Regions from separate parts of the Homo sapiens genome. Here regions 2 and 3 are each reported to be linked to region 1. Evidence: microRNA targets listed by miRTarBase, many of them from high-throughput screens and not tested one by one. Region 1 holds a microRNA gene; each other region holds the end of a gene's coding sequence.
What was found. The annotated mature microRNA hsa-miR-197-3p reads UUCACCACCUUCUCCACCCAGC and lies in region 1 at 1,175-1,196, opposite strand. An mRNA with a match to its seed (bases 2 to 7 or 8) in the 3' UTR can be bound and repressed. Matches are read on the target gene's strand: a 7mer-m8 pairs with bases 2 to 8, a 7mer-A1 pairs with bases 2 to 7 and ends in A, and an 8mer does both.

Region 2: miRTarBase lists MSRB3 as a target of hsa-miR-197-3p. Seed matches in the 3' UTR shown: 7mer-A1 at 1,598-1,604.
Region 3: the mRNA of RNFT2 is a reported target of hsa-miR-197-3p. The part of its 3' UTR that is shown has no 7-base or 8-base seed match.

The regions. Positions count from the first base shown.
Region 1 is chr1:109,596,880-109,600,135 of GRCh38, reverse strand. It overlaps MIR197 (microRNA 197), which reads right to left and starts at 1,243; the gene lies at 1,169-1,243. It overlaps GNAI3 (G protein subunit alpha i3), which reads right to left. Exons shown (of 9, transcript NM_006496.4): 9 at 1-3,256.
Region 2 is chr12:65,462,493-65,465,748 of GRCh38, forward strand. MSRB3 (methionine sulfoxide reductase B3) reads left to right here. Exons shown (of 7, transcript NM_001031679.3): 7 at 663-3,256. The coding sequence ends at 830. Among named protein-coding and RNA genes, the nearest start is that of LINC02454, 140 kb to the right of the region's middle.
Region 3 is chr12:116,848,688-116,851,943 of GRCh38, forward strand. It overlaps RNFT2 (ring finger protein, transmembrane 2), which reads left to right. Exons shown (of 11, transcript NM_001382266.1): 11 at 627-3,256. The coding sequence ends at 761. Among named protein-coding and RNA genes, the nearest start is that of HRK, 31 kb to the right of the region's middle.

The DNA.
Region 1 (3,256 bases):
TTTTTGTAACCAGATCAGAAACAAATATTTAACCCTATTTTCTGGCATGCAACCTTAATTCTTAAGACTGCTAAAGTTAGAACAAACTTAAAAATAGTCCAGCCCCATCACTAGCAATTTATAGATCAAAAACTGAAGCCCAGGAAGGAAGAGTATCTTCATCAAGATCACAACGCTAGGCAGTAGCAGAACTAGAACTCCAGAACAGGTCTTCTCAATCCAAAGCCTGTGATGATGTCCAGCTACCAACAGAGCACCATACACTATAAAATCAAAGCCAATTTCTTGTTCTTCTAAGCTCCTCCCATTCCCAACCAAATTCTTGGTCATTTTTTCATTATGCCGTCTCTAAATCGTGGACATTTAACAAAACCACCTCCAAGCTAAGACAAATAGATCTCAAAATAGAATATGAAAACAGCATAAAATCACAAAAATATAACTAAGTTTGCTTGTTTGTTGAAGGTAAAATTTCCTCTTCATATTCTTAGAGGGAGAGACCATAATGTACTTCCCTAGCATAGCATGATTAAAGAGACATTACTAACAGTAAATCAAATGTAAATTACGTTACATTTCACATAAATCTGATAGTTTTCCTTTTTTAGACAAAAATACAATATGATTGACACAAAAGGACAAATACTATGATTCCACTTATATGAGGTATCTAAAATAGTCAAATTCATAGAGACAAAGGAAAATGCTGGTTACCAGGGGCTGAAAGAAGGTGGGGCATGGGGAGTTACTGTTTAACAGGTACAGAGTTTCAGTTCAGGAAGATGAAAACAAGTTCTGGAAATGGATGGTGGTGATGGCTGTGCAACAGTGTGAATGTACTTAATGCCACTGAACTGTACACTTAAGATGGCAAATTTTGTTATATATGCTTTATCACAATTTTAAAAATAGAAAAAATATACTATAATTAGAAATTTGTATTTCTGTGGATAAAAGGAAGAATGGATAAAAGCGGCACAAAAGTTGTCTTAAAAGCAACATAAAAGACACATTAACTTGAAACAGTTCCTACTCTGGTAATAAAATCCACTCACATGTACCTCCAAATAGTCCAAAACAGAGTATTCCTTCCCATCCCCACGGTGAGACATAACAGCATTCAAAACCCACTCTATACTTGGAGATGTGCCGTAGACCAAAGTGTGCCGGCCATGCTGGGTGGAGAAGGTGGTGAAGGGTGAAGAGCTCTTACCTCCCACTGCCCTCTCTACCCGGCACAGCCCCCAGAGCACAGATTCCAGAAGGATTTCGGTGTTGGGCCAGGGACTGCAAGTGTGACAGAGCCTCTGGTGGTCCTGCTAGGTAAAAGCATGAAAACATTTCTGTGAGGTCAGAAGACACTGGAGACTGCAGAAGGGAACTTTTCTGTCTTTTTGCCATGAAAAAGCACTAGTATAAGCAGAAAATAGACAGCTGGATTTAAATGTAAAACAAAGCAAAGACCTTTTCACCCTGCTTCACGAATTTTAGAGCAATTTATAGTTCAACTTCATTTCAGGTCTTCAAAATGAATATGGGCAAAGTAATGCTGTAAAAGACCACCCACTACGTTGAATACCTTTGTTGGTGCTGCCTTAGGATTTTTTTTTTTCTGTGCAGTATAATCCTGAGTATCATAACATTTACAAAGCATTTTCAAATATGTTATTTCTATCTGATGAGAACCACAGAATATCACAGCAGGAAGGAATAATTTAGTCCATCTTTAGATAACAGATGAGTGATTTAAGACTGAAAGAATACACAAGATTCCATAGCTGGTTGGAAGCAGAGACAAGACCAGAACCCAGCATTCCAAACAACTCTCCAACCTCGTAAGATTCTGAGAGGTCTCAGGACCTTTATCCTACATGAGCAAGAATAAACAGAACAGGTGATTTCTTGTGTTTTGTTGTATCTACTGGAAATCTCTCTTACATATAAATAAGCATCTTAGTAAAAATGTCTGGATAACCTAAGGAGAATTTTGGGCGTAGGGAGAGGTAAAAGATAAGAGGAGACAGATAAACCAGGTTGTTCATAATTTAATATTCCTGCTGTCACAGATTTTATAGCTTAGTGAATGCTGGTACACTGAGATACTTCTATCCCAGCAGTGTATTAATATTTATTATTTGATTATTTCTGGTACCTTGTGATTCTCACTAGATTTCAGGAAAACACTAGCACTGGGCATACAAAGGCTTTTACATGTGACTCAATCATTCCCCTTATATACCCCCGTACCCATTTCAAAACGACTTTCATTCTAGTTTAGAGCTAGCTAGCTTTGCTTTCTCTACCAAGTGTAAATAAATATTCATGTTATTACATATACTGTTATCTGTCACAGGGTTTTATCTTTAATTTGGTGTATCTTTCAATTTTCACTGCATAAATAAATGCAGTAAAATAAATGAAATGAATGTTTGGACATCCTAGGTTTCTTGTTGTCTTAATTTTGTATAAAACTAAATACTCTGTATCCAAAGTGTAGGAATGTTATGTGACCCAACAGTTTTCAATAATTTTCTTGGTGGAAGGCACTTTAAGTCATGTACAAATGGTACTTCTTATTGGCAAAAAATAGATCACTCACTAGTGATTTTGAGCTTATTTGTGCACTGAAGTTGCTTATTTTCAATATTTGTGTTGACTTTAAAAAAAAACAAAAAAAAAACAGACTCACTCTGTCGCCCAGGCTGGAATTCAGTGGTGCGATCTCGGCTCACTGCAACCTCTGCCTCCCAGGTTCAAGCGATTCTCCTGCCTCAGCCTCCCGAGTAGCTAGGATTACAGGCATCCACCACCATGCCTGGCTAATTTTTGTATTTTTAGTAAAGACGGGGTTTCACCATGTTGGCCAAGCTGGTCTCAAACTCCTGACCTCAAGTGATCTGCTTACCTCGGCCTCCCAAAGTGCTGGGATTACAGACATGAGCCACTGTGCTCAGCCTGTGTTGATCTTTAATATAGATTGAGCATTTCAAATCTGAAAATCCAAAATCTAAAATGCTCCAAAATCAAAAGCTTTTTGGGTAACAACATAACACTCAAAGGAAGCACACACTGGGGCATTTTGGATTTCAGATTTTTGGATTTGGAATCCCGAACCAATAAGTATATAATGCAAATATTTCAAAACCTCACAAAAATCTGAACTCTCAAACACTTCTGGTCCCAAGAGATTTGGATAAGGGCTATTCAACCTGTATTAGGTCCTACTCAGTTGTCCCCAAATGTTGGCCCAGATTGG
Region 2 (3,256 bases), not on the chromosome of region 1:
TTTATATTAGAGTTCATTTGGATAAAGAAGCCAGCATGACACTACTTGTTGGAAGCCAGGAAAAAAACAATTGTGTGTGCTAGAGATGTTTCCTTTTGCTACATTTGCAGCCCTGGTGACTGTGACATAAATCTATTGAGCCTTGCCATTGCTTCGCTGGGTTCCAAGAACATCCAATACTTGTCTGATGTTAAGTTTTACTGCCCATGAAAGCAAACATCACCTCTGTCATGGCCAGTTAAACAGTATCTTTTCAGTGGACTTCTGCATATCTGAAACCCACCCATCCAAAGCCAAAAGTAATGCCGGGGGAAAGATTTTATGCTGCCATGTTTCTTACAAGGGAAGATCAAGGGTCAACTTGATTCATAAAATTACTGCAGTCATTTTTCAGCTGGCTGAGAGACTTCACAGATCAAAAAATACGTGGCTCCTAAATGATTTCTGATATGCACAATTCTAGTGTTTTTTGTTCTCAGCATGTGGCGCAAAGCCTGCCAGAAACCATCTTTGCGGCTATTGACAGGCGGATTAGAAATCATCCACGATGGTTTCCTTCATTTCTCTACAGGCTGGTCATCCATTTAAACTGCTTAATGTGAATTCCTCTCAAAGCCTGCTTTGTACATGCTTTTCCCTGACGTTTTGTTCTTCTCTTTCAGTGTGGTGCTCACCTTGGGCACATTTTTGATGATGGGCCTCGTCCAACTGGGAAAAGATACTGCATAAATTCGGCTGCCTTGTCTTTTACACCTGCGGATAGCAGTGGCACCGCCGAGGGAGGCAGTGGGGTCGCCAGCCCGGCCCAGGCAGACAAAGCGGAGCTCTAGAGTAATGGAGAGTGATGGAAACAAAGTGTACTTAATGCACAGCTTATTAAAAAAATCAAAATTGTTATCTTAATAGATATATTTTTTCAAAAACTATAAGGGCAGTTTTGTGCTATTGATATTTTTTCTTCTTTTGCTTAAACAGAAGCCCTGGCCATCCATGTATTTTGCAATTGACTAGATCAAGAACTGTTTATAGCTTTAGCAAATGGAGACAGCTTTGTGAAACTTCTTCACAAGCCACTTATACCCTTTGGCATTCTTTTCTTTGAGCACATGGCTTCTTTTGCAGTTTTTCCCCCTTTGATTCAGAAGCAGAGGGTTCATGGTCTTCAAACATGAAAATAGAGATCTCCTCTGCAGTGTAGAGACCAGAGCTGGGCAGTGCAGGGCATGGAGACCTGCAAGACACATGGCCTTGAGGCCTTTGCACAGACCCACCTAAGATAAGGTTGGAGTGATGTTTTAATGAGACTGTTCAGCTTTGTGGAAAGTTTGAGCTAAGGTCATTTTTTTTTTTCTCACTGAAAGGGTGTGAAGGTCTAAAGTCTTTCCTTATGTTAAATTGTTGCCAGATCCAAAGGGGCATACTGAGTGTTGTGGCAGAGAAGTAAACATTACCACACTGTTAGGCCTTTATTTTATTTTATTTTCCATCGAAAGCATTGGAGGCCCAGTGCAATGGCTCACGCCTGTGATCCCAGCACTTTGGGAGGCCAAGGCGGGTGGATCACGAGGTCAGGAGATGGAGACCATCCTGGCTAACATGGTGAAACCCCGTCTCTACTAAAAATACGAAAAATTAGCCAGGCGTGGTGGTGGGCACCTGTAGTCCCAGCTACTCAGGAGGCTGAGGCAGGAGAATGGCGTGAACCCGGAAGGCGGAGCTTGCAGTTAGCCGAGATCATGCCACTGCACTCCAGCCTACATGACAATGTGACACTCCATCTCAAAAAATAATAATAATAACAATATAAGAACTAGCTGGGCATGGTGGCGCATGCATGTAGTCCCAGCTACTCCTGAGGCTCAGTCAGGAGAATCGCTTGAACTTGGGAGGCGGAGGTTGCAGTGAGCTGAGCTCATACCACTGCACTCCAGCCTGAACAGAGTGAGATCCTGTCAAAAAAGAAAAGAAAAAGAAAGCAGCATTCAAATGTAAGACAACTGTAAAATATTGAGCCCCACTTGGTCTAAAATTCAAAAAGAAGAACGCCTGTCCATCGCCTTTTTATAAGTCCTTCTCTCCACACCTAAAAGCAGCTGCAGCTGGAAGGGCACAAATTCCACTGTGTAAAATAAAATATTAGGGGCAACACACTTCATCAAGGCAGCAGGAATGAGAGAGAGCAGAGAAGATCAAGGATGAAGTCTTGGGTACTGAAAAATTCAGTGCTGGGCAGAAAAACTGACAGGGCAGTACAAGTAACAAACAGAATCCAAGTGGGGTGGCCCTTGTGCACAGAGCTCCAGGTGACCTCTGGAGAGACATGGGCATTCACATGGAAAGCTAAAACGGAAGCTCAAGTTTCATACTCAACATAATCTTCTGTGTGACAAAGGACAAGCCATGTAGCCTCTCTGTGCCTATTTCTTCATGCATAAACTGGGACTCATAATATTTGTAAAATGTATTGATACTCTCAGGGCAAATTCACTATATTGCTATACAGTTGAGATCAGTGTTGTAAAATTAAACTGATCTGGTTCTAATTGCCTCAAAGGCCAAAGCCCAGGCATTTGAAATGGAAAGAAGCAGAGAGGAGGCTGACTTAGCTGATTGGTATGGAAACAGTTGGGCCAAGAGCCAGAATTTCCCTTTGTAGCAACACGGCTAGTTTTACTTTGAGAAGCTCTGCTCAGCTGCTTTATAACATTAAGTCTGGCGGAATGGATGTCACTGTGCACAATAAAGTTTTCACAAGTATAAACAATGGTGATGTAAGTCAACATTGCTGTAGCCAGGTGTGAAGGTTGTATGGTGTGTGACGAATGTACATCATGTTTGTAGGTTTGGATGCTAATCTTGAATTGTAGTTTAAAAAATACGTATTTTTGTAACTCTTTGAAAGTTTATGAAGACTGACAGCTTTCCTTGTAAGCACTAAGAGAAAAAAAAGAAAGAGGGACATTTGACAATTTTAAAGAAACAACAAGAAATTAGAATGAAAATCTGTGACAAACAGCGTCAGTGTGGCCATGTCCACATTCCTACATGTCTCTCTCTACAAGCACCTCTCTAAGAAGCCTGACATCCCGGTGGACTCTTTATAGTCATGTACACTTGATTCCAGATGAGCTCTGGTCTTATCTGGATGCTCAGATAAGAGGTTTCTATCTGAGCATCCAGATGTTCCCTCAGGTTCCAAGACATTTCACCCCAGGCCCTGGGTTCACTCTGGAATTCGTAGGCTTCACGTCTCTCT
Region 3 (3,256 bases), not on the chromosome of region 1:
CTCATCAGGGCTCACTCCTCACTGTCCTGCAAGTTTTACCCAAATGTCAGTATCTCCGTAAAGTTGTCCTTAACGTCCCAACCCGCCCAAGCCCTCCCTGTTCCTTCTCCCTCCTGCTTTTTGTTTGTTTGTTTTTTGTTTTTTTGTTTTTAGACAGATTCTTGCTCTGTCACCTAGGCTGGAGTGCAGTGGCACAAACTCAGCTCACTGCAACCTCTGCCTCCGGGTTCAAACGATTCTCTTGCCTCAGCCTCCCGAGTAGCTGGGACTACAGGCGCCCACCACCACGCCCGGCTAATTTTTGTATTTTTTAGTAGAGACTGGTTTTCACCATGTTGGCCAGGGTGGTCTCAAACTCCTGCCTCAGGTGATCCGCCCATCTCGGCCTCCCAAAGTGCTGGGATTACAGTCCTGAGCCACCACACCTGTCCCCTCCCCTGCTGTTTCATCTTGGTGCTTCCTACTGATAACTCAGTATTTTGGAGTCGCATTGTCTCCCCAACGCGAGTGCAGGCGCCCCGAAGGCAGGGGTTGTCTGTCTAGTCCGCTGCCCCTTCTCCTGCTCCCGAGACCGAGGCAGACGCTCAGTAAAGAGTCCTGGTGCCTGCTGATTGCTGTCCCCGCAGCACGTGTTCTGTGAGGAGTGCCTCTGCCTGTGGCTGGACCGTGAGCGCACCTGCCCGCTCTGCCGCTCGGTCGCCGTGGACACCCTGCGCTGCTGGAAGGACGGCGCCACGTCCGCACACTTCCAGGTGTACTAGGACCGAACACTGAGGACACCCAGAAGGACGCCAAGGGTCAGCATGCCCGGACCCAGCCCTGCGGGGGCTTCCTGAGAAACAGGCCTCAAGCACTTACATCCTGCCTCTTGCCCTCCACCACCTCTGACCCCAAAGTCCCGCCCCTGTCTTGTCCTTCTGACCTTCATCTTCCTCTCTCGTTCTGTGGTATAGTGCGTGCCTCCTTCCCCTGCAAAAGGGGACGTCTTCCTAACTCAGACTTGATGCCCTTCTAGATGCATCTTCCTTCTCCACTCCAAGTCAAGGACCTGGCAATACATGAAGTTCCCACTTGTTGGTTATTTTCTCTTTCTTTTTTCTTTTCTTTTCTTTCTCTCTCTCTCTGTTTCCCTCCCTCCCTCCTTCCTTCCTTCCTTCCTTTTTTTTTTTTTTTTAAAACAAGGTCTCGCTCTATCACCCAGGCTGGAGTGCAGTGGCACAATCTCGGCTCGCTGCAACCTCCACCTCCTGGGTTCAAGCGATTCTCCTGCCTCAGCCTCCCGAGTAGCTGGGATTACAGGCACCCACCAACACACTTGGCTAATTTTTGTATTTTTTAGTAGAGACAGGGTTTTGCCATGTTGGCCAGGCTGGTCTCCAACTCTTGACCTCAAATGATCAGCTCGCCTCAGCCTCACGAAGTGCTGGGATTACAGGCATGAGCCACCGTGCCCAGGCTCACTTTTTTTTTTTTTTTTTTTTTTTTGAGACAGGGTCTGGGTCTTCACCCAGGCTGGAGTGCAGTTGGCACAATCACAGCTCACTGCAACCTTGAACTCCTGGGCCCAAGCCATCCTCCCGCCTCAGCCTCCCAAGTAGCTGGGACTACAGGTGTGTGCCACCAGGCCTGGCTAATTTTTTTTTTTTTTTAATTTTTAGTAGAGGCGAGGACTTATTATGTTGTCCAGGGTGTTCTCAAACTCCTGGGCTCAAGCAATCCTCCTGTCCTGGCCTCGCAAAGTGCTGAGTGCTGGAATTACAGGTATGAGCCCCTGTGCCCAGCCCACCTGCTGGTTATTTTAACTTAGTACCTAGTACCTAGGACTTGATGGTGCAGGCTGGGGAGGAGCCTAGAGATCACTGCCTCCCAGATAGCCCAGGCCTGCAGATTAGAATCCCTGTGAGCCCTGTGAAGTATTTTTTCTTTTCTTTTCTTTTTTTTTTTTTTTTTGTTGTTGTGAGACAGAGTCTTGCTCTGTTGCCCAGGCTGGAGTGCAATAGCACGATCTTGGCTCACTGCAACCTCCGCCTCCCGGGTTCAAGTGATTCTCCTGCCTCAGCCTCCCGAGTAGTTGGGACAACAGATGCGTGCCACCATGCCCAGCTAATTTTTTTTTTGTATTTTTAGTAGAGATGGGGTTTCACCACGTTGGCCAGGCTGGCCTCAAACTCCTGACCTCAAGTGATCCACCTGCCTCAGCCTCCCAGAGTGCTGGGATTACAGGCATGAGCCACCACACCTGGCCCAAAGTATTTTCAAAATACAGTTGTTGGGCCCCACCATATACCTGTAATGACTTAAGGTCCCAAATACTTCATGCGCAGCAGGCAAAGCATGCAGCATCCTGCTTGGATTACGTGCTGTCATCCTCACAACAGCCCTGTGATGGGGGAGGTACTGTTGGGTCCCCTGTTTTATAGATGAGGAAACTTGGGCACAGAGCTTGGTGCGGTAACTTTCCCAGGGTCACCCAGCCAGCATGGGCGGGCCAAGTTTCCAACAGAGGCCTGGTACAGTTTCAGAACCCACATCTAAAAAAAAATAAATTTATTAGAGATGAGGTTTCTAATAAAAATCCAGGTTGTCCAGGCTAGATTCAAACTCCTGGGCTCAAGTGATCCTCCCTCCTCAGCCTCCCAAGCAGCTGCAACTACAGGCACACTCCGCTATCCCCAGCAGAGCCCGCACTCTTAACCTCCGCACTGCTCTGCCCCTCAGACATTCCAGGCATGGGGCCCAGCAGACACGGTCTTCTAAAAGCACACGAGAGGCCGGGTGTGGTGGCCCATGCCTGTAGTGCCAGCATTTTGGGAGGCTGAAGCAGGCGGGTCACCTGAGGTCAAGAGTTCAAGACTAGCCTGGCCAACATGGCAAAACCCCCTCTTTACTAAAAAATACAAAAATTAGCCGGGCGCGGTGGCGGGTGCCTGTAATCCCAGCTACTCAGGAGGCTAAGGCAGGGAGAACTGCTTGAACTCGGGAGGTGAAAGTTGCAGTGAGCCGAGATTGCACCACAGCACTCCAACCTGGGTGACAGAGTGAGTGAGACTCTGTCTAAAAAAAAAAAGAAAGAAAGAAGGGAGGGAGGGAGGAAGGAAGGAAGGAAGGAAAGAAAGAAAGGTCAGCTTTGGCCCAGATGTGGTTACCCCTTGGTCTCCTGTCTTTATGTCTTTCTCCTCTTCCTATTCTGTCATCTCCCTCACTTAAGTCTCAGGCCTGTCAGCAGCTCCTGTGGACATTGCCATCCCCTCTGGTA